4 linked regions of the Homo sapiens genome follow. The protein of the gene in region 1 purifies or fractionates together with the protein of each later gene. This does not show direct contact. Each region holds a gene or a part of one and is shown in the gene's direction. Other genes may lie near its edges.

The links.
Region 2: the proteins of SF3A1 (region 1) and DHX15 purify together in Homo sapiens (co-immunoprecipitation; 5 studies listed by BioGRID and IntAct, with this or other methods). This does not show direct contact.
Region 3: the proteins of SF3A1 (region 1) and RBM17 purify together in Homo sapiens (affinity purification with mass spectrometry; 5 studies listed by BioGRID and IntAct, with this or other methods). This does not show direct contact.
Region 4: the proteins of SF3A1 (region 1) and SNRPB2 purify together in Homo sapiens (affinity purification with mass spectrometry; 5 studies listed by BioGRID and IntAct, with this or other methods). This does not show direct contact.

The regions. Positions count from the first base shown.
Region 1 is NC_000022.11:30,339,881-30,346,917, reverse strand, and holds part of SF3A1 (splicing factor 3A subunit 1), read left to right. Parts: intron 1-398; coding exon 399-606; intron 607-1,727; coding exon 1,728-1,985; intron 1,986-4,038; coding exon 4,039-4,113; intron 4,114-4,567; coding exon 4,568-4,718; intron 4,719-5,032; coding exon 5,033-5,226; intron 5,227-6,105; coding exon 6,106-6,223; intron 6,224-6,536; coding exon 6,537-6,722; intron 6,723-7,037. UniProt on the Homo sapiens protein: Component of the 17S U2 SnRNP complex of the spliceosome, a large ribonucleoprotein complex that removes introns from transcribed pre-mRNAs.
Region 2 is NC_000004.12:24,581,550-24,588,558, reverse strand, and holds the start of DHX15 (ATP-dependent RNA helicase DHX15), read left to right. Parts: upstream 1-4,004; 5' UTR 4,005-4,165; coding exon 4,166-4,236; intron 4,237-7,009.
Region 3 is NC_000010.11:6,084,751-6,092,043, forward strand, and holds the start of RBM17 (splicing factor 45), read left to right. Parts: upstream 1-4,283; 5' UTR 4,284-4,443; intron 4,444-4,595; exon of another isoform or gene 4,596-5,221; intron 5,222-7,293. UniProt on the Homo sapiens protein: Splice factor that binds to the single-stranded 3'AG at the exon/intron border and promotes its utilization in the second catalytic step. Involved in the regulation of alternative splicing and the utilization of cryptic splice sites.
Region 4 is NC_000020.11:16,739,989-16,743,064, forward strand, and holds the end of SNRPB2 (U2 small nuclear ribonucleoprotein B''), read left to right. Parts: intron 1-336; coding exon 337-425; intron 426-857; coding exon 858-1,017; 3' UTR 1,018-2,576; downstream 2,577-3,076. UniProt on the Homo sapiens protein: Involved in pre-mRNA splicing as component of the spliceosome. Associated with sn-RNP U2, where it contributes to the binding of stem loop IV of U2 snRNA.

The DNA.
Region 1 (7,037 bases):
TTCACTTTTGACTACCTTTTGTTGGTAAAGGCATACTGATTTTTTTTTATTTGAAGTAGTAATATGTATTCTCCATCTTAAATAGATTTTTTTTAAAGTAAATTTTATTAAAAGAAATGAGCGATAGCCTAGATGGTTTTGGAAATGGCAGAACTGGAAAAGGAGCTAAGGAATGACTGGGTTCAGGGAAACCCTGTGGCAGAGGTGGCCTGGTTCAAGCTGAATGAGGCAGATGGCACTGATCGCCAATGCCAGGAAGCTAGAGGAGGACGTCTGCTGAGGGATGGGCTGGTTTGAGCAGTGGGTGGTGGCAAGAAGGACGTTCCAATGGGCAGTGTTCTAGATCACAGCAGGCACAAGGGAGTGGTGTTTATTCTTGTTGTTTTTTCTTCCTCCAGAAACGGGCCTGAATTTGAAGCTAGGATCCGACAGAACGAGATCAACAACCCCAAGTTCAACTTTCTGAACCCCAATGACCCTTACCATGCCTACTACCGCCACAAGGTCAGCGAGTTCAAGGAAGGGAAGGCTCAGGAGCCGTCCGCCGCCATCCCCAAGGTCATGCAGCAGCAGCAGCAGACCACCCAGCAGCAGCTGCCCCAGAAGGTTTGGAGCCCAGTGCCCCCTTCACTTACGCAGGGCTTGAGAGGGAAACAGGGATAGGGAGGGAGTACACAATTAACTCCAAATCTCACAACCACCCAGGGAGAGAAGTGAGGTCGTTATCCCCATCTCTCAGAGGCAGACCGAGGCCCAGACAGCAAAGTACTGATGTTAGTTGGCATTTCCCGAGCACTGCTTGTCAAGCTCTGTGCTTGGTACTTCAGGAGTCTTGTCTCATTGACTCCTCACAGAGGCTGTATGAGGAACCTGAGAGTTGGGGGACGTGTGATTTATTCAAGGCCTTGCTCAGGGTGTGAGGGCAGTGCCGTGATGTGAGGGCAGCACTTCCTACTTGGCTGTGCTGAAGGATGCAGTGTGGCCTGTGGGCTCCTCCTTGTGCCATCCCTTCCCTTCTATCTCTTCTTCCCAGGACCCCTCCATCCTGGCCTCCCCTGATACCACCTTCCCTGTGCTGAGGCCCAGCACTAGGGACTATTAGGATTATGAATGAAGAGAGAGGCTGACATGTTTTTCCTCCTGTCCAGACCTGCCTTCTGCACTCCTGAACCATGGTGGAAAAGGCAGTCCCTCCTTTTGCAGTGGGCTATAAAGGTTGAAGTCAGGTTCTAAGACCTTGCGTTGCAATGAGGCCTAGGACCTCAGGCTACCTCAGTTTCTTCATCTGTAAAGAGGATTCACAGTACCTGTGCTACCTCATCGTTCATGCGGAGGTCATGGAAACACTTTGTACAGTGGGGTTTTCTGCACACATGTAGGCCTTCTGCACATCCATCCCTCTTGGATGGGATTTAATAAGTCCTATTCTTGTTGGATCTTCTGTCACCCAGTTTTGGCCCTCAATTTCAAGGCAGGAGCAGAGATACAGAGGGGAATGGTTCTCACTCAGCCATTCAGGAAGTTGAGGCCATAGTTGGCTGGGAAGTCAATGCTCTTGTGATTTAGAATTCTCTCACACCAAGTGCTAGTGGTGTGTGCATAATTAACAGAAGTCTAGAGGTTCACAGCATCCTGCTGAGGGGTGCATGCCCATGTCCCCTCCCCTCCCCTCCCCTGGAGCCTGTTCACCCCTGTGCCTCTCGCCTCATACTCCCTTTGCATCTTAGGTCCAAGCCCAAGTAATCCAAGAGACCATCGTGCCCAAAGAGCCTCCTCCTGAGTTTGAGTTCATTGCTGATCCTCCCTCTATCTCAGCCTTCGACTTGGATGTGGTGAAGCTGACGGCTCAGTTTGTGGCCAGGAATGGGCGCCAGTTTCTGACCCAGCTGATGCAGAAAGAGCAGCGCAACTACCAGTTTGACTTTCTCCGCCCACAGCACAGCCTCTTCAACTACTTCACGAAGCTAGTGGAACAGTACACCAAGGTGCCTGGGCAGGATGGGGCTGGGGTCCTGGGCCCAGGAAAGGAAAACATCTTATGCTTGGAAGCACTGTGTCCACTCACTGTCTACAAGGACATCGCTTCTCCATGGGGCCTCTGAGCAAATGTTTTGAATCCCAGTTTAATGTAAAACCTTGATTTCTATTCAGTTATTTCTTTAAGTGCAACACAGACTGCCGGTTTCTAAAGAGAAGGGAAATACATGCTTGCTAACTACCATTAGGCGATTGCCTGCTATGTGACAAGGCCACGTGGTGCTTGCTGCTTTTAAGTGCATTTCCGTTTTCAGTTGCCTAGTAAGGCCCTGAGAAGAAGCCAACCTTTAAGAGTTGCCTCCTTTTACCTAACTTAGTCCTCACAAGAAGCCATGAGGTGTTTTCCCCCCATGTTTGAGAAGCAGAAACAGGCTCAGAAAGGTGAAGTCACGTACTCAAGGTCTGTCAGCTAGTAAGTACTATGCTGAGATTTAAACCACATTTGACCCTAAAACTTTGGTTCTTCAGCTTATAAAGTGCCTTAAATTGGAAACAGCATTTAAATAGGTGTTGAGAGACACTTTGATGTCATGTAAGTCAGTATAACTAACATCACTAAGAAATTATGTATGCAGCATCTTCTCATTTAATCTCCGGTAGCCTATAAGGTAGCCACTATTGCTATGTTCACTTTACAGAAGAGAAAATTGAGGTGCAGTGAAGTTAGCATGGCCAGGGTCACATAGCTAGGAGGTGGCAGGGCTGGGGCTTGAGCTCTGGCATTTTTACTCCAGACCCTAAGAACTCAATTATCATTTGACAGAGCTGCAATCAAGAATCAGGACAAGTCAGTTCTGGCATTTAAAATAATCAGATTATTAATTTATTGCAAAGTGCACTGACAGCTTTGCCTGTGGCACATTTTTCTTGCTACACATGTCATGGAGGTTGTTTTCCTTCCCTTTACAGTGGGATGGTCTGTACATCTCTTCTTCATATCCAGAAACAACACCTCAAAGATCTGACTTGAAAGGACTTGAGAATTTCCTAACTCTACTCACTTTTAAGTACATAATTAGAATTTTAACAATGTGTGTGTTTAGAAAATGACCAAATCCAGAAGCTAGTATGGTAGCTAAAATAACAGTCATTCAAGGCCCAAGGCCCAAGGGTTTCTATAAATATGCAATATCAATTTTAAATGAACCCTGGATTAATTTCTCCCAGTGGACTGCTTCCAGGGTTAAAGGTCCCAGATCACTTTTTATTCTGTTACTTTCCTGTTTTTTCTTCAGAACTTGGGTATTGGCATTTACCACTGTAACTTGAGGTTCCTGCTGTCTGTTCTAGCCATGGAAGACTGAGCAGATAGATTCTTGGGGTAGAGGTGGAAGGAGGATTGGGATAGGGCCGAGCCACTTTGCCAGTGGCAGTAGAAGCTGTTGGGGCTGTTTAGAACAAAGGCAGCATTTGTTCTCTCAGTAAGTATACATTGTCAGACATTATTCAGGGGGCTGGAGATGTAATCGTGAACAAAAGAGAAATCCCTGTCTTCATGGAGTTTCTAGTCTAGTGAGGAGGAGTCAAGTGCATTGTCAGTGTCTGTTACATGGTGCTAAATACTACAGAGAGAAAGCAGGGAGCAGAAATAGAGGGAGGTGGGGCAAGTACGCTGCGGTTCTGAATAGGATAGTCAGGGGGGACCTGCGTAGTGTTTTTGAAAGGATGAGAGCAGGTCAGTGTCATGAAAGCAGCCGTCTCATACTGACCGTGTTCTGGGTAATCGGCTAGTGCTTTGCATGCTTTCCTGCTAATCCTCGAAGCCACCTTTTTAAGTTCATGGTGCCAACTTTGAGTGGTGGTGCCATTATTTTGGAGAAGGAAATCAAGTTACTGAGGTTAAGTAACTTGCCCTAAGTCCCACAGCCAAGTGGAGCTGGGATTGGGACACAGAATCCCATGCTTCCTCATCTCCTGTGCTTTATCACAGGCCCAGGAAGGCTGCCTCTTTGTACTGCGTTGTAAAGCACTGACAGTTGCTTTAACTCTTCTGTATTTCAGATCTTGATTCCACCCAAAGGTTTATTTTCAAAGCTCAAGAAAGAGGCTGAAAACCCCCGAGAAGTTTTGGATCAGGTAAACTGAATAGCATTTCTTGCAACCAGTTACTGGTGGTTGGTTCTGTTTTATGTCTGAAAACAGTCTCTGAGGCAGGACCTTGTTATGTTCCAGTCATGGGAATGGTGGGAGAAAAGGCTTTGTTGGCTACAAAGGCCAAAGAAACCTGGAGTCCGGATGCTTCCCAACATACCACAACTTTCTGCTTTGCTCTCAGCCTCAATATATCTCCCTCTTTTCCACTCTAGCTAGAAGACAGAAGGCCAGCTCCCAAGCAGATCAGAGGGTGGAATTTTCATTCTGTCCCAACTCTGCACCTGGGTGGAACCAGGTGCAAATGCCATAGTTTGGAACCATACTTCCATTCTGTTCCGAAGGAGGCGCTGACTTTGATGAAAGCCCTGGAGGTGGTAGCCTCATCAGGAGCAGACCCTGCTTCAGCGTAGCACCAAGCTGTTTCCCATCTCTGCAGGTGTGTTACCGAGTGGAATGGGCCAAATTCCAGGAACGTGAGAGGAAGAAGGAAGAAGAGGAGAAGGAGAAGGAGCGGGTGGCCTATGCTCAGATCGACTGGCATGATTTTGTGGTGGTGGAAACAGTGGACTTCCAACCCAATGAGCAAGGTAGGTCTGTGAGGAGTGACTCCAGATGGGGAGCCAGGAACTCAGACTTCCCGGGAAACCTGGTGCAGGTGTTCCCAGAGAGCAGTAGAATCTCTCAGAGGGCTTTATCAGTGCTGTCTCCTCCCTGCTCCCAAAAGACTTCAGTTCTACCACTTTGCCCAACTTAGATTCAATACGTACTTGCCAGACCCTAGATGGGCCTCTGGAGATAGCTGGAGAGAAAACAGACATGGCCCCAGCCCTTGGGGAGCTCAGACAGGGCAAATAGGTGGGTCTTTGATAAGGAATACCTTTGCCTCTGGCTCACCCTCTAGGGAACTTCCCTCCCCCCACCACGCCAGAGGAGCTGGGGGCCCGAATCCTCATTCAGGAGCGCTATGAAAAGTTTGGGGAGAGTGAGGAAGTTGAGATGGAGGTCGAGTCTGATGAGGAGGATGACAAACAGGAGAAGGCGGAGGAGCCTCCTTCCCAGCTGGACCAGGACACCCAAGTACAAGATATGGATGAGGTAAGCTGCTGGGCAGGCCTGCAGGATGACCTTTTCCCCTGAAGCCCCAGGAGGTCGAAGTGCTCTCCACCAGTCAGATCCAGCTCCCCTGTGAGCCTTGAAAGGAGGCGTGGGTCCTGAACAAGGCCATACAGCTGCCCAAGTCCAGGCAGCACAGAGCCTCTTTCCAGCTCCGGCAACAAAGATTCATTCATAGGCAAGGATCTAAAAGCTGTGCTGACCTGTTCTGTGGCCGCCTCCCTGGCCCGGACAGCCTGCTCTCACTGCCTCGTGCCAGCCCTCAGGGAACTCACTGCATTACCCTGTTCTGTTTTGAGCTCTCAGCTGGGCTCCAAGCTCCCAGAGCTTTTCTAAATGTAGCCCACGCTTCCTTTCAGGCATCCCTACCCCCTTCAAGCCAGGCCCTCTAAGCAGGCATGGAGTCTCCAGAACCAGACTGTTCTCCCCCACTCGGAAATAATTTGTGCACAGCCTGAGAAGAAAGGGCCCCTGTCTGTGGGAAATGACTTTTTCTCTCCCTCCCAGCATTGCTGTGTGAGCAGCTACCATTGATTGGCGACTCGCCGCCCCCACCCCTCGCCCCCTTGGCACTGTCCCCCCCCGGCATGTTAAGTGCCCTTGGCCTCTTGGGACTGCCTGGTGCCAGCTGCTGGAAATGCCTGGGAGGAGTGCTAGGACCGTGGCCTCAGCACTCCCATTCATGCTGTGAGGAAGCAGCTTGGCCTGCTGCCGGCTGGCCTCAGCTGCCCTGGGAGGCTTAGCACATGGACGCTGGCTGGCAGAGGCCAAGGCTCCTTGCCACCCAGAGACCTGCCAGGCTCAGCTACAGGGAGGTGGCCTCAGCCCCTCTCTGAGTCCTGCCATTGCTTTGCTTTTCAGGGTTCAGATGATGAAGAAGAAGGGCAGAAAGTGCCCCCACCCCCAGAGACACCCATGCCTCCACCTCTGCCCCCAACTCCAGACCAAGTCATTGTCCGCAAGGATTATGATCCCAAAGGTAGGGAGGGCCTGCTTCCCAACCCTCGGGCTGCCCAGGAAGTCCTGTGTGCCCTCATGTGTTCCTCACACCCGTCTTTCTAGGAGGGCTTGAGGTGCAGCTTATTGTAAAAGCATTGCAAGCCCGTCTGTTACAGGTTTCATGGTGGGAACAGGGCCCAGTCATCTCTGGTGCCCTAGTGCCTTTCACAGTGCCAGGTACAAGAGTGGCACTGAATAGATGCCTTGATGAATGATGCACGCATGAAATACCACCCTCTTAACTCAGGTGGCTGCCCACCAGTGTTCTTACTGAAACATCTGTTTCCTTTTAGCCTCCAAGCCCTTGCCTCCAGCCCCTGCTCCAGATGAGTATCTTGTGTCCCCCATTACTGGGGAGAAGATCCCCGCCAGCAAAATGCAGGAACACATGCGCATTGGACTTCTTGACCCTCGCTGGCTGGAGCAGCGGGATCGCTCCATCCGTGAGAAGCAGAGCGATGATGAGGTGTACGCACCAGGTGAGGTGGGGGTTCCAGGAGAGCCCATGGTAGTCTCCGAATTACAGCCATCTTCTTCTAAGCAAACATAGAAAGCAACAATTGAGGTCAACAAAAGCTTTTGAGGAGAGTTGCACTCTATGATATTGCAAGAGAACTCCCCACTTTCCAGAAGAACTCCCCATAGAAATTCCCCAAAGGCAGACACTGAAGGAGATGCCATGTGCCTGTTGACATCCCAGAGCAAGCTCTGGCTTTAGCTGGAAGGGCTTCCTGTGGCTGTTTAGAAGGAGAGCATTGATGGCTGGAGTACCATGAGCTCTTTGGAATGGGGCA
Region 2 (7,009 bases), on another chromosome or scaffold:
TAGAGTTGGACTGGGTTCAAATAATCCAAATCCCCACTTGTCCACTGAGAGTTCTGTAAACTAGTTCTCTACATGGACAATGCAGAAGTTTTATCAGTTCATGTTCATCTTGTCAGACTGGGAGAACTTATCTTCAGTAACCACACCTTAGACGAATAAAGTGGAACGAGAATATCTATTTATCAGCCGCAGCAGAACATAGCAATTAAGCACACACACTGTCTGGGCTGAATCTCAGAACTGTCATCTTGGCCAAAATACTTGCCTCTTTGAGTAACAGTTTCCTCAGCTGTAAATAAGAGTAATTCATTGGACTAAACTTGAAGTTGCTGTAAGTCTCAAATAGGCTCAAATGTGTAAGGAACAGCATCTGGCTCATAGTGCTTTGTATGTGTTTGCTATTAGCAATTATTTTTTATTAATTTAGGTTGACTTGAGACCCTGCAGCTGGTTAGCTGCATAAGACATTTCCTCCAGGTGAGAAAGTCCATGTCATAGGCCAGAGGGTTGTCTAGTAGAGAAAGAGTAACAGTAAGGGAAAATAGGATATTATCTGGAAATATTTCCAGCCAAGTTTGTGGAGGGCCTGGTGGGTGCCTTTTCTCTACTCCAGGGATAATGATGTCTGAAAATCCAGGGTGGATCATTTAGACCTAGAATTCTACCCTTCTTCCCAAGGAGTGTGCACATCCTGGCAGCCTCTGGCCACTTGTTCCCCTTATTCTAGATTCCAGAGAGGTCACTATCCTTCAATAAGTAGGGCCTTTCTCTTTCCTCCTTTCCTTCTTTTCTTCCTTTCTTCTTTCCTTCCTTTCTTCCTTTCTTTCTTTCCTTCTTTCCTTCCTTTCTGTCTTTCTCTCTTTCTTTCTTTCTGATGGCGTCTTGCTCTGTTGCCCAGGCTGGAGTGCAGTGGCACAATCTTGGCTCACTGCGACCTCAACCTCCCGGGTTCAAGTGATTCTCCTGCCTCAGCCTCCTGAGTAGCTGGGATTACAGGCATGTGCCACTATGCCTGGCTCATTTTTGTATTTTTAGTAGAGACGGGGTTTCACCATGTTGGTCAGCCTGGTCTCGAACTCCTGACCTCATGATCCACCTGCCTCGGCCTCCCAAAGTGCTGGAATTACAGGTGTGAACCACCACGCCTGCCCAGGGCCTTTCTTTAATTGTTCAGGTCACAACACAACTGATGAGGTTATGGTTTTCTTTAGCTGTAACCTAGGCCCAAGGGAAAAGTCTCATCACCTTGATTTCAGTTCCTCTTTCATCATTTATGAGAGGCTGACATCTGAGTGGAGCACTTCTGCAGGTAGAATTCTAACTTTTTTCCCTGATTATTTCTCCAAAATTTTAGAGCACTTTATAGCAGTCATCAAACTGGAAACCTGAAGACTGAGATTTTAATACTTCAAGTGAAATCTGTATTTTATTCTGACTTTGATACCAACTGATTGTGTGAACTTCAATAAGACCTAGGGGTTCAGTTTCCCTCATTTGTAAAATTAAGCAAAAAGAGAAAAATCAGATGGAATCCAGTGATTATACATCATGATCTGAAAAAAGTCAACACAATTGTCCCTCAGTATCCACTAGGGATTGGTTCCAGGAGAAACTGCCGACACTAAAGTCCGTGGAGGTTCAAGTGTCTGATATAAAATAGTACAGTATTTGCATATAACCTATGCACATTCTTCTGTATACTTAATCATCACTAGATCACTTATAATACCTAATACAATGTAATTGCTATGGAAATAGCTGTTATACTGTATTGTTTAAGAAATAAGAGCAAGAAAAAGTCTGTACATGTTCAATACAGATGCAACCATCCATTTTTAAAGAAAAATATATTTTTGATTTGCAGTTGATTGAATCCAGGGATAAGGAACCCACAGATAATAGAAGGCCAACTCATCATTTTAATTTCAGTTTTTTCCTATACATATGTAATTATGATAAAGTGTAACTTATAAATTAGGCACAGTAAGATATTAACAACTAATAATAAAACATTTATAACAACATACAGACAGTCTTGACTTACAATTGTTTGACCAGATTTTTTGACTTCACGATGGGTTTATCGGTATATTAACTGCATGTTCAACTTACAACATTTTCAGTTTACGATGGCTTTGCGATGGCCATCACCCCATCATAAGTCAAGGAGAATCTATACTGTAATAGAAGCTATGTGAATGTGGTCTTTCTCTCAGAATATCTTACTGTACTGTGAAAGCAAAACCAGGGACAAAGTAGGGACTATGGTACATTTAGGATAGAAAGTTGTACTGAATATTTCACAAGTGAAAAATATACTCATTTTTCTTTGTGTTGACTTTCCAATGTGGATTTGGTACAAAAAAATAAAAACCCTCCTTACCAATTGCTGGCTGGGTGCAGTGGCTCACGCCTGTAATCCCAGCACTTTGGGAGGCCGAGGTGGGCAGATCACTTGAGGTCCGGAGTTCAAGACCAGCCTGGCCAGCATGGCGACACCTCGTCTCTACGTCTCTACTAAAAATACCAAAATTAGCCGGGCGCGTAGCCGGGCGTGGTGGCGGGCGCTTATAATCCCAGCTAGGAGGGAGGCTGAGGCAGGAGAATGGCTTAAACCCGGGAGGCGGAGGTTGCAGTGAGCTGAGATTGCACCACTGTCCTCCAGCCTGGGCGACAGAGCAAGACTGTCTCAAAACAAACACACAAACCCCTCATCAGTTGCAATATTTAAGTTGCATTTAATCCTAGCAATTGCAGTCCTGAGATTTGGATAAGAACCAGAGTATGGTCTTCCAGGGCAGCCAAACCAAGCCATTCCATGAACAACAGAGATCACCCTGCTGCAGATGGTCCACAGATCTTTTCTTGTGCATTTCTTCTGGGAACAAATGCAACTGAGGAAGCAGACATATTCTAGGGGGAGAGATCCACAAAAATCCTTAGAGTCATCTTGCCCCACCTCCTTGTTATGGCTTTAGGTACAGCCCTTATGGCTAGGAGATGTAACCTTCCTCAGCCTTTGCGTCTACGTCTACAAAATAACAACTACCTTGCAGGGTGTTATTTAACACTGCGAAAGTGCATTAATAGGCACAGAAAAACAAAAAACAAAAAAGCAAATTGTGCCCTCACTGCGAATTCTCTGTATTCTAGTTAAAAACATCTATAGCTTGGGTGCATGGTGTCCGTGCTGGGCAAGAAAAGGGCAAAATAGATCATGACAAGCCTTAACATTTTCTCACTTCAGTTTCCTCACTGCAATTGATTTTTTTTTTTCTTTCAAGTCGGAGTCTTGTTCTGTCGTCCAGGCTGGAGTGCACTGGTGTGATCTCGTCTCACCGCAACCTCCGCCTCCCAGGTTCAAGCGATTCTCCTGCCTCAGCCTACCGAGTAGCTGGGATTACAGGCGTACGCCACCACGCCCAGCTAATTTTTGTATTTTTAGTAGAGACGGGGTTTCACCGTGTTGGCCAGGCTGGTCTCGAACTCCTGACCTCGTGATCCACCCGCCTCGGTCTCCCAAAGCGTTGGGATTACAGGCGTGAACCATCGCGCGGCCCCTCACTGCAACTGAGGGTAGCGCAGTGGCCGCAAGTTCCAGATCTGGAGTTACTAAATAGCTGGGTTCCAATCCCGGCTCTGCCACTTATTAGCTGTACGATCTTCATTCGTTTCTCAACCTCTCTGGGTCTGAGATTCCCTTAAAGCCGGGGTAATAGAAATGAATAGGATTTCCTAACTAGGACTAGACTTTCTCAATTTCTTGACTCAGAGGGGCAAGGATAGCCTGAAATGGAAAGTGAAGGCCTTCAGGTTCTTCCTAACAGCCGCTCCGAGGAGGGGAAAGCTACAGGAAGAGGGAGGAGACCCAAGAAAGGTCGGACCAATGAGGCAGCGGGCGGGACAGGAGTTCCCGCCTTTGGGCGTCGTGCGCGCGCACCTCGCTCACACGCACACTCGCACGCACGCACGCTGCGGAAGCGCGCGCGCGCGCAGGCCCAGCCCTCGTCGCCGCCGCCATTTTAGCTGTTGGTTCCGGCCGCACCGTGTGGGCTGTAGTAGCGGGAGGGGTGGGGGTCCTCCAGAGTTAAGTGGCTGTCCTCGACTGTGCCCATACAGCAGCCAGCTTTCTTCCTTAATAACTGCCCGTTCGAAGAGTGCGAGGATGTCCAAGCGGCACCGGTTGGACCTAGGGGAGGATTACCCCTCTGGCAAGAAGCGTGCGGGGACCGATGGGTAAGCCAGGCCGGGGGCGCGAGGCGGCAGCTCGGGCTTTGTTGGGGTCCTGGCAGGGAGCGGGCCGGGGCTGGCCTGGCCGAGCGGGTCCTGGAGCCCGAGCCTTTGTTTCTCTCTGGGCTGGGTTCACTAGCGGCGGGTAGGAGAAGCGCGGCGCCCGTTCGGCCCGGCAAGGGCGCGGGGGGTTGCGTGCGACGGGGCCGCTGCCCAGCCCAGTCCGGAGGGTGGAGAGGCCTGCAGTAGCCATGAGGGCGCCTCCTCCCCCAGGCCGAACCGAGCGGGAGTCATTTGCGAGGGCGTCGGGCGGGAGTGAACCGCGGACCTCGTGGCCTCGGTTCCCGAGGAAGGCCTGGAGCCGGAGGAGAGGGTGGGGGAGGGCGCGGTGGGAGTATTCGCTTCCAAGGGCAGCAGGCACTTCCCAGCCAGAGGGGCCGTGGGGAGGGCCTGGGTGGGGGCGCGGCCAGGCACTCCAGACGGGAAAGGCGGAGGGCGGAAAGTGAGAGCAGCGCGTGGATCATAATGTAGGCTGGGATGGGGGTGGCGGGAGTTGAGAGAAGCCAGCAAATAGGGAGTTCTCGGGGGAGGTGGGAGTAGAGGACCTGCCGGGAGAAAGGAAAACGTGGAGTAATATACCTGATGGGCTGGAAGGCTGGTGTTTTGGGGCGACTGAGTTTATAGTTTGGCGGGAGAGAGCGTGCCTTGGTCCATTCAAACACTTCAAAGTAGATACTAGCAAACTTCCGCTCTCTGCCTACGCTCCCGCCATCTCCTGTATTTCCTGCTTTGGTTAAAACTGGTTACTGAACATCGTCCCATGGGGAGGGATTAGAAGGCATTGTTTTTTTTTTTCATCATTTATTTTCTATGCATGTCCCACTTTTCTTCATAAGTAGCTTTTGAAATACAGGGATCATGTTCAAAACGTGTTTTTAGTATTTATGGCGAAACACCGCCCATGTGGAGGTTGAGAGTTGAAATACTTACACAAACTCTTGGTGTTCCAGATTCCTTTCCTTAAAGGTACAGAGGAATTTAGCAGTTAATTTAAGCAATTTCGTGAAAATCATTTCTTGTCCCTTGTGTGTTTTCATTGATGAAGTACAAAGACCTGTTTGGATAATTCAGGCAAAACCCACAAAAGCCCGAGTAGCCAAATACTTTGCATAATTGTATCATTTTATTGTGTACTTGTGATACAGAATCACTGTGTCAAGTCACCTGTATAGCTGTTTTGAATTTTTCAGCTAAAGTTCTTCATTGAAATTGATTTCCAGGGATATGTTTAGTGTCATTGTAGAGTATAAGCCAGGATAGGGTGTACTTTTTGAGGCTTTGCCATATGTTGAATTATTCAATAGAAAGCAAAAGCATGTCACATTTTAATTTTGTGAGTTATTTAGTTTACGATATTAGGCATTGTAAAAAAGACAATGACATTGTAAGACAGACTCTCTTTAGGCTATCACCCTCCCCCACCATTACGCCCCACAAAACGTTAATACCTCTGAGCTGTATGTCACAGACTCAGAGCTGGAAGCAACTTAAAAAAGACTATACGCGGCTCCAATCAAGGAATGAGAAGTGGAGAACAGAGTTAAGGTGGCTTGTGCAAGTTTACAGCAGGATCTGGAACCCTGCCTTTGTCATTTTCACTCAGCAGCACACAGTTCAGTACTGTAGTTAAGAGTCATTACAGCCTATTTTAATGACATTTATAATGCGTTGGTAAAGTAGGGAACACTTAGTTCTTGATTTCTCTAAGGCAAAAATAAATTGCTGTCATCTGGAACTGATGTCTCTCACAGGAGGTCAGATTGGAACAAAATATTCTGGGAGGGAATGAATGAATTCATTTGTATTTGTGCATATGTGCACCATTTAAAATGTTCCCCTTGGGATTAGTGGTCCCACCATATGTATGTGCGATTGTTTACTTTCTCTTGCAAAAACAGATATCCTTAGTAAAAAGGTTGACTTTTGGAGTCTAATGGTAGCTTTATGATTCCCTTGTATATTATTTAGAATTTGCCTATGGATAAAGGAGAGTTCATCTTTGGAATAATGCCCAAGTTATAAGAAATAGTAGAGGGAAGTTTTTATACTCATTTCTATGTCATTTGAGTGCCATTTATCCTTGAACTGGTTTTATTTAACAGTGGACTTAAGGTGTTTATCGGCCTCAGAATTTTTTCATACTCGATAATTTTAAGTCACTTGTTGACTGCCATGCAATCCTGCAGATTTTTTTTTTCCCTGATAAGCAAGTGGTTTTATTGGAGAGCATAAGCTTGTCAGTCTTACAAACTCCACTGCCAGATAGGGTTTCTGCAGTACTGAGAAGGGAAGGTAATTCAGTGGGAGATTTCACTTATATTAATGCTCCCAAACTATATAAGGCTTTATTTACTCCTGGCATATTTTAACTTTGAAATCAGGTGAAGTTATTATAGGTTTCTGTTGCATATTCTGGCCTCATTTCTTCTTTTTGTCAACCCACAGAATCTTCACTATACAATTACCGAAAGTAATAATTTTCCATACTTACTGTTGAAGTATGGAAAAAAGTTTTCGATGTTAGGGGCGTTTTTCATTTTGATGTTGGTTTTTGATATTACCACCTGATAAGAGTTTTTTCTGTTAATTATGGGAAAGTAAAGCTAATGTATTAATACTGTGATAACATTTGTGGAGCATGCACATTTTCACTACAATCCTGTATGGTAGATGAGGTTAAATGAACTTGCCACAGGGAACATAAGAAATGTTTATACTC
Region 3 (7,293 bases), on another chromosome or scaffold:
AATTGATGATCTCCTTCATTATATTTTTATTTTTATTTTTCTCTTTTTTGAGACAGTCTCACTCTGTAGCCCAGGCTGGAGTACAGTGGTGAGATCTCAGCTTACTGCAACCTCTGCCTCCCAGGTCTGAGCGAATCTCCTTCCTCAGCCTCCTGAGTAGCTGGGATTATAAGCGCCCACCACCATGCCCGGCTAATTTTTGTATTTTTAGTAGAGACGGAGTTTCACCATGTTGGCCAGGCCGGTGTGGAACTCCTGGCCTCAAGTGATCCACCCACCTTGGCCTCCCAAAGTGCTGGGATTATAAACGTGAGCCACCGCGCCCAGCCTTCTTTCATTATTTTTATTACAAAAGCAATGCAAGCATATTACTCAGAGATAAAAAAGGCAAACAAGCAAAAAAATTTAAATAAAGAATCCTGATAATCCCTATCTGGAGCCAGCCATATTGGCAAATACCTTATAGATACTTTGTATATATTTATAAATTTTTAAAACAAAAATGGGATCCTTCCATGTAAATTATTTGTCTCTCAACATAATTGAATTTCCCTAAGTTGTTATTGTTCGCTAGTTTGTTCCTATATTTTTACTATTAGAAACCTTACAGAGCAGGAATAACTGTAGAGAATGATTTAGAAAGACAAAAAAAGTGAAAAAACTTTAAAAAATCTGTGAGATGGGCCGGGCATGGTGGCTCACACCTGTAATCCCAGCACTTTGGGAGGCCAAGGCGGGTGGATCACTTGAGGTCAGGAGTTTGAGACCAGCCTGGCCAACATGGTGAAATATCATCTCTACCAAAACTACAAAAATTAGCAGGGCGTGGTGGCAGGCGTCTGTAATCCCACCTACTCAGGAGGTTGAGGCAGGAGAATTGCTCGAACCCAGGAGGTGGAGGTTGCAGTGAGCCCAGATCATACCATCGCACTCCAGCCTGGGCAACAAGAGAGAGACTCCATCGAAAGAAAAAGAAAGAAAGAAAGAAAGAAAGAAAGAAAGAAAGAAAGAAAGAAAGAAGGAAAGAAGGAAAGAAGGAAAGAAGGAAAGAAGGAAAGAAGGAAAGAAGGAAAGAAGGAAGGAAGGAAGGAAGGAAGGAAGGAAAGATTTCTGAAATGGCCGAAGCTGCTTAGAGATATACATGCCTGTAATCCCAGCACTTTGGGAGGCCGAGGTGGGCGGATCACCGGAGGTCAGGAGTTCGAGACCAGCCTGGCCAACATGGTGAAACCCCGTCTCTACTAAAAATACAAAAAGTAGCCGGGCATGGTGGCGGGCACCTGTAATCCCAGCTACTTAGGAAGCTGAGGCAGGAGAATCGCTTGAACCCGGGAGGCGGAGGTTGCAGTGAGCTGAGATTACTCCATTGCACTCCAGCCTGGGTGACAAGAGCAAGACTCCGTCTCAAAAAAAAAAAAAAAAAAAAAGATACAAAAAAGGAGACAAAAATCATTCTCCACGGTGCACCGAAAGCATCCCTACACACAGAATCCTTGGGAATACTTGTTTTTGATCAAATTATAATCTGATCAAATTGTCTTAACTAGCTTGTCTTCCCTCCAGGGCCCACACCCCTTTCTTTTCCTGTTTCGGGGTCCCCCGGTTCCATCCATGCTGCATACTGTAGCATTTCACCCAGCCTTTCCTGCCAGCCCAAACACCGCCCTTATCTTCTTTCTTCCTGGAACATCTGCCCTGCTAATTCCCAGTTTCCGATGAATTCTACCATCTGCTGCCTGCCAGCCTCCTGCCAGGCGCTGAGCACAGCTGGAGCAGATCACACGACTTGTTTACGCAGGAGTCACTACCGATGTTTGCTCTGCAGCCCCGAGGGGGCGCTCCAGCGCGTCTGTCTTGTCCCTCTTCTAAAGCTCCACCGTTTTGTGTGCGCTTTCTGATAGTTGCATGGCCTGGGTTCTGTTCCCCCATTGGGTTAAGCTTTGGATTCTCGGTGCATAAAATAAAGATGATATTTGTTACTATTGACAGGAAATGGAGGCAAGCATGAGACTGCTCACGTACTAGGAAATGAAGTAAGGCAGTTTTCCTCCTGGAAGTTAAACTAGAAAATTCCTAAACAATGGATGTGATTGCATCTATGGTCTGTAAACCAAAAAGTTACTTGTGTATGTATGATGGAATGATTTGGGAACAAAGGCACAAATTTTCAACCAAAAAGGGAGGAAGGAGTGGTCTCAGACTGCAGAGTGGAGACGCCAAGCAGATTAGGGAGTACAGGTAGACAGCAGGTTCAACCTGGAGGAAGTCCTGCAGCTCTGGACCTCCTAATCAGGGCTTTTGCACCCCCACCGGTGCTTTGATCACGGGGTGGGGAGAGACCCAGTCTAGACACCTTCTATCTTTGCCCTTCTTCCTTTTTCTGTTTACACGCTATTACTTTCTGCTTCTTTTATTGACCAAGTACGTCCTTCTGCTTCTCACATTTTTATTTTATTTCCAGTTTCTTGCACAAGTGCTTAATTCATTTAGCTTTTTCCAAGTTTTTAATTGATACAAAAACTTAAAACCATGAATTTTCCTCTTAGTACTCTCTGAGCTAAATCCCATGAGTATGTCATTTTCATACTTTTCTAGATATTATGTTATTTTGATTTTGTTTTCCTTTTTAGTCCAAGTGTTATTTAAGCATTTAAAAATTTTCAAGGGGTAGGCATGTTTTATTTTCTGTTTTTTCATTAATTTCTACTTTTATTGAATTGCTGCAGATAATATTACCGATATGATTCTACTTATTGGACTATGTTAAGATTTTTCTCTGTGGTTTAAAATATGACTAATTGTTGTGAATATTCCTTAGACACTGGAAAAGATGTAATGTCTATTTAGGGGACAGTGTTTGATATATTAGATCTATCATAGGAATTGTATTTTTAGGTCTTCTCAATCCCCATTTACTTTTTGTACTCTTCGTCTGGCAAGGAGTGTGCCAATTATTTCTGTCTATTCACTCACTCCTACAGTGTTTGCTATGAATAATGAGATTATGTGATTTGGTGCAAAGATTTTCCTATTTTTCCTATTTTTTTCTTGATTGTGAATTGTGCTCCTCAAGATTATAAAATGTCCTTCTTAATCTTACTTAATGCTTTTTGCCCTGAAATCAACTTTGTAGTAAGCGGTTTGTGATTCCTGATTTTTTTAATTTTTTTGCATATTCCTGGTATATCTTTTCCAATCTTGTATTTTCAAACTCAGAATAACGTTAGCACTTTCTTGTATACAACACTGAGTTGCATGATGGTTTGTGCTCCTATCTGAGATTGTAGTTTTTTAGTAGGTAAGCTTAGGTCTATATTTCTTCTTGTGAGACATTTGGTCTTGTTCTGTCATATAGTTTGGTTACGCTTTCTGTTTTGTAACTTTTTAAAATATTTCCCTATATATATATTTTTTTTGCTGTGGTTTTGTGTGTGTGTGTGTGTGTGTGCATGCATGTATGTGTGGGTGCATGTATGTGTGGATTATTTGAAAGCTTTGTAGTTTTGTTCTGGGTTACCCTCAGAATCATACCATCCCATGACGTCCTTAATCCTCTATTTCTTTAGATTGTCTTTTGTCTCTCCACTGTATTTCTTTTTTCCCCCTTTTCCCGTTTTCTTAATGACTGGATTTTAATGGATTATAGTAACTTTCTTGGTATACTCCTTCGGACTAAGACGTCTGCTTAAATCTCTACTATTTGATTTATCGGCTTGAACTCTATTTGACACCCAATTAATTACAGATGTAAAAATCATATTTACCCGAAGTCCCACTTTCCCTTTCCCTCCCTGCTTCTGTCAGCGACGTCGTTTTTAAAGACCGAGGCTTTATAGCATTGACATTCTTTTCTGTACCCCTAATCGCGGCATCTGTTTCCATAATCTTACGCTTAACCTCGTGCTCCTTGCCATCCTTTTGCAGCATCTGGCCTATGCAGACTTATTTTCAACTTTTTGCTTATATAGGAGTGGCTTTGAATGAATGAGATCGAGGGGCCTGGAGGGACTTCCCCCACCTCCCCTATCAGAAAGCCCGGCCTCGGACCACTTCTCCTCCTCACCATCTGGGGGCGCTGCCGCGCTCCCCAAGCCTTGTGGAATTTCGAAAATGTGCGCCAGGGCGACACCTCTTGATGGTAAGAAGACGCCGGCGGAGGGGAGCGTGCAGTGCGGTCCTCCCGCGGGCAGGGGGCAGTGCGGCAAGGCGCCCTCGGCGCAGGCGCAGAGGCCGAAGCAGGCGCAGGCGCAGGCGGGGCGCAGGCGCGGGCGCGCTCTCCCGGCAGCCCGCGCTCCCTGACCCCGCGCCGCCGAGCGCCCTGAGGACTCAGCGAAGGGTGGGCGCCGCCGAGGCCTCCTGCCGCTGGCGGGTTTCCGCGGAGTGCCGCCCGGCTCCGCTCTGCCGCCGGCGCGGCTCATGGGCAGAGTCGGCCGGGCGGGCCGGGTAAGTGGCGCCCCGGCGGCCCCGGGTGGGTGGCCTGGCGGGACCTGAGGCGGGCGCGCCTTCCCGGGAGGCGCTAGACGCAAGCCCGCGGCTTTAGGCCCGTCGCGAGGGGCGGAGGCCGGGCCAGCGCAGCCGGAGCCTCCGAGGGTCTCAGTCCCCGCGGCGGGCGCTGGTCTCTCCACGCGGCTGCGGCCCGGTACCCTCCGCCCGCCGCCGCCTCTGGTGACCCTGGCCCTGACCTTCTCCCTCTTCCCTTCCTCCTCCTCCTCCTCATGTCTGCCTCGGGCTGTTTGGTGCTGAAGAGCGTTTCTTCTCCGTCTCGTGCACCGCATCCTGACGAAATTGTCTGGTCACCAGAACCGAGTAGCCCGTAGCGTGTCCCCCCTGGCCCTGCACGGTTGCCCCTCTCTGGGGCTCGGAGCCGGTTCCTCCCGGGGTCTCAGAACTGGGAGTGCAGACGTTGGCGTTTCTCAGACTCCGGAGCTGCCCGGGACAGGAATGCAGCCCTAACCCCGGCGTCGCCTCGGCTCGTGCAGTTTGAGCGGTGTTTCAGCGCTCACGTCCGACCCCAGGCAGTCTTTGAGCTTCGCCTCTTGCCCCGAGAATGTGTAATGATCGGAGAATGCAGGTGGAATGAGGTTCTGCCCCTGCTTGCAGGAGTTTGGTTTCTGGGAAAGCAGGCGTGAAAACCCAGGCCCGGGTTGATTTGAGAAACGCAAGTGGGGTCTGGAAGGACCTCTCTTGAGAGAGGAGGTCATGCTTATGTTGAGTCTTGAAGGTACGTTGTTAGATGTGAGAGGTGGGAAAAAGGCTGCCGGCGGAGGAAGTAAGTGCGAAAGTAGCAGAAGCGAAGCCCCGTAGTGCGTTCTGGAAGCTGCAGGTTAGGCAGAAAGAAAGGTTTGAGGAGGGGCTGCTGTGTTTCCAGGAGTAGTCAGGTCAGAACATGGAGGTTTCTTGAGAAGCAGTAAAGAAGCGCCATTGAGGGTCCTTATTTTGCTAGAGCCAGGCATATGGATGGGAAATAGGATATTCTAGATAAGGGCAAGATTCGCATATACTCAAATAGATGGGTAGATGTGCACTGGCTCCCCGCAGCAGATGGAGTTTTTAAAAGGATGCAACACAAGTTTCCACATTTTTAGTTGTAAAGGCTGCAGACATTTTGATCGTAATGACAGCTTTTAGGGAATATGGGGTAACAGTTTAGTGAGCTAAACGAGAGGGCTTTATTTTTAGAGTTAGTTAAGCAAGGTGCTGCGTGCTGTCCAGTTTATAACAGAGCAGGTTGTGCGGTTGTGGAGCTCTGCGGAACCAAAGGCAGCCTTTCTGGAGGCTCTTGAGAGAATTGTTGTACACTTCCAAATGCAGCTTTATTTAAAGTGGATTTCTTTTTACCTGGTTTGTTTTAACTTACCTTCCCATTCTCCCCTGCCTATGAATTTTTCAGACCTCCTCCCAGCAGGGAACAGATGATCCCAGGCTAGTCATCTCTCAAACCTTTCATAATAGTCAATAGTGAAGGAAGTTCTGTTATTCGCCTAAATTACAGGTGACTGTAGTGGACTGTGTTTGCAATACTAGCCTATGGCATTTTGGTAACAGCCAGAGGGTGGGATTGAATGGAAAGATTAAACTGACAAGGGCGTCAGATGGAGGTATGGGAAAAATTTTTTTTTAATTCTTTAGAAAGTCATGGTAGATCTTATACTTGAGGTAGATGCTTTTTAAGCTGTATTTTTTGCGGACACCAAAGTGCACCACCCCTCCTGTTCCTTTCTGGGTATATTTGCCATATATATGTATATAAATATATAAATATTTATATATTTATATATATTTATATATTTTTATATATATATTTATATACATATATTTTTTTCTCCTGAGACAGAGTCTCACTCTATAGTCCAGGCTGGAGTGCAGCGGTGTAAGTCGGCTCACTGCAACCTCCACTTCCCAGGTTCAAATGGTTCTCTGGCCTCAACCTCCTGAGTAGCTGGAATTACAGGCGCTCGCAACCATGCTCGGCCAATTTTTGTATTTTCAGTAGGGACGGGGTTTCACCATGTTGGCCAGGCTGGTCTCGAACTCCTGATCTCAAGTGATCCTCCTGCCTCGGCCTCCCAAAGTGCTGGGATTACAGGCGTGAGCCACTGGGCCCGGTCTTGCCATATTCTTTAGGCTTCAAAGAGGCATGCTTTGTTTTATGATGCATGAATATCTGTTTAGTGATAGAAATATTTCTTGCTAACAAGCCTGCCTCTTTAGGTGCTCAGAACTCAGACCTTGACTCGTTATTGGTTGTGTGGTGGTGGTAGTTTTTTTCTCCTTAATTATGGTTTGCAATTTAAATTTTATCCTACTTATCATAAGTTATGTGCTTAAAAAGCAGATCTGCAGATCTCACTGTTTCATAATAATGTGATTTAAATAGGTGCACTAACATTTTTCATCCATTCACTAACACATTTAAAAAATATTAATAGAGCCACTTAACAATGTTCAAGCATGGTGCTGAGCTAGAGATACAAAGCTGAACATAAGAAACACCCCTGCCTTTAGGGGGCTTACACTGCAGGAAGAAACCGCTGTGTGAAACAATAGGCAGCATAACTTGCCAAGGTTGCTGTGATCTGAGTATGCTTGAGGAAACCAGTTGGGGGGGGTTAGTTTTATGTGGGGGCAATAGTCACTAAAGGCTTCTGAGATGCACTTGAAAGATAAGTAGGTGGGGTGCTTCTGAGAAGACTCTTCCATGTTCTTTTTCCTGCCAGTTGCACATGTTTTAAAAAAATACTTTCCAGCTTGGGTGGAATCTTGAAAACTCACCATTCTTCCTTCTGGCAGAAC
Region 4 (3,076 bases), on another chromosome or scaffold:
AGCTACGGAGGGGTGACATTGCTGGCCATCTCTAATTTTATTAAGATCTTTGATTATGTTATCCAGGTGACAAAATTCTCCAATCACGACTCACCTCCAGAAGCTTAAAACATAATTGTTTCATATACTGTTAAACACTTAAGAGATTTGTAATTTTCCAGACTTTCAGTGTCTTTACTTGAATGTCTGCCTTGCTTAGTTACTGTAAGGTTTTGATTTATTTCTCCAGTGTCATTGTTTTTCAGCTTTATTGTTTGATATAGTAAGATTTCACATGCCTAGCTTACGATGCTGTTTAAACTTACAAGCTAACTTTGCCTTTTTACTTTTTAATAGGTCCCTGATTACCCTCCAAACTATATTTTATTCCTTAATAACTTACCAGAAGAGACTAATGAGATGATGTTATCCATGCTGTTTAATCAGTAAGTTTTTTCATAAATAAGTCTGTTTCTGAGAGCTTCCTCACAGGACAAGTAGTACTTCCGTGGGTTGAATCCATTTATCACACAGCAGTAATTCCTTACAGGTTCATTGATTTGGTTTGGGATGAATCATGAATTGGAGCCAATTTGCCGATTTAGCAAATACAAAGCTAAATTTCCTCTAATGTTTGAATTCTTAACTCTGATTGATGTAATAACAAAGCTTTGATATAATATAAAATAGAATTAGTTTATTCTTGCAGTTCTTCCATGGTATTAATTACACATGAGGCTCTTCCGTCTACTCAGTATTCTTGGTTAGAGTATGGTTATTTTTCTTGGACTAGTATTAGGAAGTTGCTTAACAAATTTTAACACAAAGCAAACATTTATGTACTTGCTGTATACATGAATTGTTTTTCTTCTTTATAGGTTCCCTGGCTTCAAGGAAGTACGTCTGGTACCAGGGAGGCATGACATTGCTTTTGTTGAATTTGAAAATGATGGGCAGGCTGGAGCTGCCAGGGATGCTTTACAGGGATTTAAGATCACACCGTCCCATGCTATGAAGATCACCTATGCCAAGAAATAACATTTGGGATAGTCGTCTTTAAAAGACTTGGTGTTATTTACAGTGTTTGTTTTGATAACATTTGGCTGGGTCATTTTAATAGTTAGAGATGAGGAGGAGTAAAAGTGAAATTTTTGTGAAGGACTTAAATTATCCAGTGTTTCTTTAGCCTTGGTGAACTATGAAATACGAAGGCCTTAATTTTGTACAATAAACTTTTATTTGTATTCTGTGTATATAATGCTTTCTTGATTGACCCATCTCCCTATCATCAAATGACTTCTAGTCTAGAACACACTTAAGGTTTATAAACTTGTGTAATAGGATGCTTTTCTAGTGTTACTTTGGAGGAGCTAATTATACAACATCATTGAACCATTCAATAAAAGTTAAGTAAAATTAGATCACAGAAGCTAGTAGATGACTGTTGTATTAATGGTAACAATGATTGTTCTGGGTATTAGAAGAAAATGAGACCCAGGCAGGATCTAAATTTGATCTTTGTATCCTTTTAAGAAATGAATATATTATTTTGCTGCTAGTAGGGATTCCACAAGTTTTCTTCATTCAGTATTAAATAAAGGCTGTTCTTACTGTTTACTGAGAAAACAGAAAGGGAATGCTATCTTCACACTTTGCATTTAATGCTGTTTCCTTCATGAGGCAGGACTGTTCTAAGGTTAATATGCAATCTCTTTATTGAAAGACCTCCAGGGTAAAAATTTTTTGATCTATAGTCTCTTTTCCCCCTTAAGACAAATAGACTGATTAATAAAGAGTTGCCAGTGCTAAGCTTGCTACTTCTTTGTAATTCTTAAACACCAATGTTCAAATATTTCCAAAGCCCATTTTCTTTAGCTTTTGATTTATGTTTAAGGCTATTGATTCAGTCCTCTGCTGAGTAAACCATGGGTATCTCCAGAAGTGGACAATTTGTTTTTACAAGTATGGTACATATTAATAGTAACAACAACAAAAAAGAAAACAGTACTTATTTTTCTGGTGTTCCTGTTTTAGTATTCCTTGAACAAAACCTTTATCACTTGGAATTTTTATTGTCTACTTATGGAAAGACTTTTAGACTTACGTAGACAGTATCACATCACTCTTATGCATACATAAAGAGGAAAAAAATGTTTCCTATAACTTTGTCACAGTTAGTCTGACTCTTCTGAATAACTTTTTTAATCCCAGTAGTCAAGCTCCTGTACTTTTGTAAAATATATTAACAGTGAATTACTAGAAAATGGGCCATGTTCTTGTATATTACAGTGATGTCAATTGCTGATAAATTTTCTAACTGCTTACTCTCGGATACCGTACTTGTCTAAGAACTGAAAATAATTCACAGACTGATCCCATGCCCAGTCCTGGCCATGCTTTGAGTGGCTGTATTGGAGCAGAAAAGCCAGGGTGGCTCACCTGGGGTGAGAATGAGGGGGGTGAATAGTAAGAGGGGTCGTGTAGGTCTTCTTCAGGATTTGCTTATACTCTGAGTGAAATGGGGGACTATTTTAGAGAATTTTTTTAAAGTGGGTTAGAATTTACGTACAATAAAGTTCACCCATGTTAGTGTTCCATTTGATGAGTTTGGGCAATTGTATATAGTCATGTAATAATCAGTACAGAGCATTCCATCACCCCCAAAATTTCCCTTGTACGCCTTTGCAGTCAATCTATTCCCCTCTACCCTTGGCCGTAGTCAACTACTGATCTGCTTTCTGTCCCAACAGTTTCGCCCTGTCTGGAATGCTTTGGAAATGTATCTGCTGTTGCCTATATCAGCAGTTCCACCAATGAATGGGCATTTGCGTTCTCCAATTTGAGGCTATTAAGAAAGTGGCTATGAAAATTTACATACAAGTCTGGGCATATGTTCTATTAGATTTCAAGCAGAAGAGTGATAGTTTGATACAATTTCTAATTTACATAAAAGTTGCAGAAATGGTACACAGAACTTTCATAACACTTCAAATTAATCATTAATGTTTCTAGGCTTCTGGGCTATTTGAGGTTGTGATTACATTGACCTGATACCCCATTATTCCATGATACTTCAATGTGTGTTCTTAAGTACAAG